2 separate regions of the Homo sapiens genome follow, and region 1 is linked to region 2. Evidence: fine-mapped expression QTL. Tissue or cell type: whole blood. Region 2 holds a variant in brackets; the other region holds the start of a gene. All regions are shown on one strand. Distances are between the middles of the regions.

What was found. PIP is the estimated chance that this variant, and not a neighbour inherited with it, causes the effect.
Region 1: it holds the start of COX7A2L, and the variant in region 2 is fine-mapped to the expression of COX7A2L in whole blood (TOPMed, PIP 0.95).

Annotation. Positions count from the first base shown.
Region 1 is chr2:42,360,024-42,362,523 of GRCh38, reverse strand. It overlaps COX7A2L (cytochrome c oxidase subunit 7A2 like), which reads left to right and starts at 1,307. Exons shown (of 3, transcript NM_004718.4): 1 at 1,307-1,434. The coding sequence starts at 1,363. RefSeq lists enhancers at 567-656, 1,217-1,276, 646-1,389, 1,297-1,616, 1,390-2,134 and a silencer at 847-1,016.
Region 2 is chr2:42,304,959-42,307,803 of GRCh38, reverse strand. All of the region lies in intron 17 of EML4 (EMAP like 4), which reads right to left. Among named protein-coding and RNA genes, the nearest start is that of COX7A2L, 55 kb to the left of the region's middle. The variant C/T (reference allele first, on the strand shown) is at 1,263.

The DNA of each region.
Region 1 (2,500 bases), 55 kb before region 2:
CCTGAGCAAGTTACTTAGCTTCTCCAGGCGTCATTTTCCTGTATTCTAAAATGGAGATGATAATAGCATTTACCTTATAGGATTGTTGTGAAGATTAAATGAGTTTAGGGCAATGCTATATATAGGTTAGTATCATCCATCAATTTGCAACATGATTTCATAAGTGCATCTAGAATATGCTTGTGTAAACCTATGGTTAGATGATGAAGCTAAGAAAAGCCTGAGTCCATCCCTGGAGAGTAAGAAACTAGTATACTCCTTTTACACAGTACCTTGCACACAGCACAGGCTTAACAGACATATTTAAATTGAACTGAAGCGAATACTACCAGAACTGAAAGTGGTAGTTCCAGATCTTTCAGGCTCAAGGTCCAGATTTTACAAGTGTTTCTGATCACCCTCCCCCTACCTCATTTATCGCAAAGAGCAGAGGCCAGGAAAAGGATGAATAATCAATGACCTTAAAACTCAGGTGAGAATAAAAACCAGTTCTGAGAAACCGTGTGACATTTACATCCTGGTACCTGAGCTTTAGATCACTCTGCATGTGTATTTCCTCTGCACAAAGCCCAGGAGGCTACTTTTATATTATTGGGGCAAATCTCCCAACAGCCCTGGGTACTAAACAGCCTTCAGCAGGTGCTTCCAAATTTTCTTATTTGCTTCAACTCCCAGGTTGCCAGGGGAAGCTTGGCCGACAAGTCTATACTCCTGGGCAGACTGAGCAACAGCAGGTGGTGGCTTCTGGATAAGAGGTGCTCTAGGTCGGAAGGAAATAAATGAGACTACGATCAGTTAAAGTTCGGTAAAGCAAGAGACGCCTTCAACCCGACGACCAGACGGTGGCTCCGCAGCACAGACTCTCTCGGATGGTGGAATTCCCAACCGGCTTCGATGTAGCCCCGCCCCTACCCAGACCACGCCCACCAATCACCGCCCTCTCCCCCCCAGGCCCCGCCTGGAGCCCGCCCCTCCTAAAGCATGCTCCACCTGACTCCGACACTGCCGGGCTTAGTCCGCCGGGCTTAGTCCGTGGAGCGCTTGCGCATTTCTTGAGTTGTCGTGGCACTGCCCAAATCTGAATGGGGGAAAGAGGGAACTTCATATTTCCTACAGACTCCGCCACAGCGACTTTGCGTGCTCTCTTAGAGCTGGTTTTGCCTTTCGTGGTCCTGAGAACCCTGGCTTTTGGTTCCCCAATGCGGCTTAAGTGTGCAGGTTTTAAGTTAGGCGATCTTCGGGCAGCCCTAGTCCCAGCACCGGGTCCTTGCGCTGAGTCTCGGGACCACAGCCGGGGAGGCGGGGTCCTTCTCTGGGGCGGTCGCGTTGGCAGCGGATGCGGGAAGCCGGACTCTGGGCGTCATGTACTACAAGTTTAGTGGCTTCACGCAGAAGTTGGCAGGAGCATGGGCTTCGGAGGCCTATAGCCCGCAGGTACGAGTGGCGCCTGGCCAGCTCGGACATGAGAAGTGGCGGCCCTAGCCTCGGCGACAGGCAGTCGCGGCGTTGGAGCCAGGGGAGGCTTCTGCCCGCGGTCGAGTTCGTCTCTGTTCTCCTTGCACCTCCCGGGGCCTCTCCACACCAGCGTACGGTGGTCACTGAGGCTTCTTTTTGTGTACCTGCTCACCTGGCGGGGGCTGGCCTGGCGTGGAAGTTTGGTCTGGCTCACTGCAGGGGTCAAGGTGACCCCCGGGGTCACTTGTCTAAAAGGGATGGTTTGTGGGGGTCCCCAGTGTGACCCGAGTCAGAGGTCCGGCCTTCTCCCTCAATTCGAAGACATCTGGCTTTCGGCCTCCTTGTCGTTTGTCATCTGCCAGAGCCCCATAGGCAGCCTCACTTGAGCTCGAGATTAGAGAGCGCGGGGCTATAAAGGCGTTTAGAGAAACCATGGTGCAGGGGGTTGGGGGGCTATGATCTGGGTTGGGAAATTTAACAGGTTACTTAACACGTCCAGGGAGGGAAGTTGCATGCAGCGAGGTTACACTTTCCCGATTGTAAAATATTTGACAGATGCTCGTTGTTTGGGTTGTCTGAAAAGTATTCCATTTCACGCAGATTCTACCAATTGGAGTTTGACTCTCCAGCATGTGTTGGGGGTAAACATGAGGGATTTTAGAGCCCCAGACGTGCCTTTTCAAATCATGGCGTTTTCCGCTTTAATTGTGTGACCTTGGCCAAGTTATTTAATTTATTGTGAGCTCAGTTTCATCCAGGGCGGCGTTAGTACACATTAAATGAAGTGTGTCAAGTGACTAGCAGTTTGGGCAGGTGGTTGGTTCTGGATAAGTGTTAACTGTTCACCAGAAGCTGTCTGAGATAGTATATTCCCTCCTAATCCTCTAGAGAAGTGTGGGAAGTGTCGGTGAGATACGCAGTTAGACTGCAGTAGTGAGGGGCCCAGATGAGGTGTAAAGGATACTCCATTACTGTTGCTTCATTTCCTTTTTCTGTGGGACACTGCAGCTTGCCCAAGAGGCAGATGTTTAAGAAAGATTTCAGG
Region 2 (2,845 bases):
GGGCGCCTGTAATCCCAGCTACTCAGGAGGCTTGAGGCTAAAGAATCGCTTGAGCCTGGGAGGCAGAGGTTACAGTGAACTGGGATCATGCCATTGCACTCCAGCCTGGGCAAAAGAGGGAAACTGTCTCTAAATAAGTAAATAAAATAAAATAAAATAAAAATTTCTTAACCCTAGGTGTGACTTTTTTCAGGCCTAGGGTCAGTGATAGTAATAGAATGGCTACATTAAGATTTTTCCATTTTAGACAATACATTCAGGTATTCATAGATCCAAGGCAAAAATAAAAACAAATGAGAAAGTTCCCCAAGGATCAACAGAACCTAACCAGATCTGAAACCAAAGACAGGAGTTACATACAGAATGAACACTGACAACTACATCTCCCCTAGATTCTAATCAATCCCCAAATGGACTGCCAGCACTTTCAATTTAGTTATCACATCACTCTCATGAAGTGTTTTCTACTTACAACTCCAAGAGAAACCAATTGGCTTACCTTTAGTTTAAGTCACTAAAATTGAGTGACTTTCCATTTTAAGCTTGTCAATGATGACTTCACAGCTATGTAAATGCTGGAAAGTAATTTCAGTGAGTTTTTCAGAACAATTTTCCCTACAAATTGGGGCCGTGTATGTCTATTTGTAAACACACAGTGTTTTCTTCAACCAAAGCAGTTTATCTTCATGATTCAAACCCCGCTAGCCTTACAATCGCCCATTTAGTGTTTAACTCCCTTGTATACATAGTATGCTTTAACAATGTCAATCAGTGATTTAATTGTCAAAGATAAACCTTCCTAACAATATTTCTAATTAATGCTGTAAATATCTCAAAGAGTACTGTTGGATTAGAGGAAAGGACAAGCTTTGGAACCATGCAGAACCTGAGCTCAATCACAGGTAACAGAACTCTATGGGTCTTGGTTTCCTGTCTGTGCAATCACGATATTAATAAACACTATGTTACATTCTTGTGAAGAGTAACATATAAAAAGAATTTAGCGGCCAGGTGCGGTGGCTCACACCTGTAATCCTAGCACTTTGGGAGGCCGAGGCGGGAGGATCACGAGGTCAGATTGAGACCATCCTGGCTAACACGGTGAAACTCTGTCTCTACTAAAAATACAAAAAAAAAAAAAAATTAGCCAGGCGTGGTGGCAGGGCGCCTGTAGTCCCAGCTACTTTGGAGGCTGAGGCAGGAGAATGGCGTGAACCCAGGAGGCGGAACTTGCTGTGAGCCAAGATCATGCCATTGCACTC[C/T]AGCTTGGGTGACAGAGCGAGACTCTATCTCAAAAAAAAAAAAAAAAAAAAAAAAAAGGATTTAGCACAAGGTCATCAGACACTGAATAAATGATATCTCTTACTTTTATTATTTCAAGGACTTTAGCATTTGTGATATCTGTTTAGCTGCCAAAAATAAAGATCTGAAGTGAATTCCTTTGTGGTTTTCTGAAAACTGGATCAGCACTACACCTCAGATGGTTTCCTGTGTGCTTAACCATTTTTTTTGGTTGAAGAAAATAATTTCCTCCAAATCCTACAGTTACCTGTCATGTGTCTTTCTCAAAGAGAATGGACCAAACTCGGTCCAAATGGACAAATGTCCAAGTCTAAGTGCTTTTAAACCTCATCATGATCTATTACTTACGTGTTTTGGGGAAGATCTGAGCTAGCCTTCTATATTTGCAAAGTATCACCAAATGCTCTCTCAAGCAGCCTAATTCTAAAAATTCAATGATTTCACTCAATAGCATCTCTAGTTTCACATTCATAATTCAATTATCTTTAAAGACCTATTTTTCCATTATTCTGAAAGATTCTGCAGCACTATATGTAAGAAGAAATTGGAATGTTTTCACATTTCAGGTGTTAATTTGTATCTAACAGCCAGAAGGAAAAATCGCTATAAAAAAACCCCCTCTAAATGACTAAATTTAGTTAGAATTAAATGAATTAGTTGGTTTAAAGTATTTAAGTCTTATATAGAAACAAAAATATTTACATAAGCATGTTCACAATAGTCTCACCCCATTAAAAATCAGCATTCCACATTTTTTAATGAGTTTAATTTTGGGAAAATTGACTTCATGTTTTTGTCTCCTTAAAAAATGTGAGAAGGACTACTTACTAGCAGAGGCAATAAAGTTGAGTCAATTAAAGATATATAAATCATAAACATGTTAACCTTAGGTACTATACAAGGTCTGCAAGACAGGTCTTAAATTATTTTAGAAAATATATCTTTATTATATATCTGCGTAGCATTTAAAAAAGACAGGATGGCAAAAGGTATAGCACAAACAACTTATAAATGCTCAATGGTGTTACATCAGCTTCAAATCCTTCCCCTGCATAAAAGATGAGGAGAGAAATTTTCTGATTCTTCTCATTTCACAAAGGAAAAGTCAAATCTGCAACTCCTTTTCAATGAAGCCCATAATGACCACTCTATCATTTTGCAACTGCACTCCCTCTTAATCTCCCATCATTTTCCCTATCCTCACATGGTTCTTAACATTTTCTAATATAATTCGTGATAATGTTTATTATTTTTATTTTTTGTAGAGATGGTGTCTCACCCAGGCTGGTCTCAAACTCCTGGCCTCAAGCAATCTTCCTGCCTCAGCCTCCCAAAGCACTGGAATTACTGGCGTGGGCTACTGCAACTCGCCTTATTATTTTTTTTGAGATGGAGTCTTGCTCTGTTGCCCATGCTGGAGCGCAGTGGCACAATCTCGGCTCACTGCAACTGTCTCCCAGGTTCAACTGATTCTCCTGCCTCAGCCTCCAGAATAGCTGGGATTACAGGTGTGTGCCACTGCGCCTGGCTAATTTTTGTATTT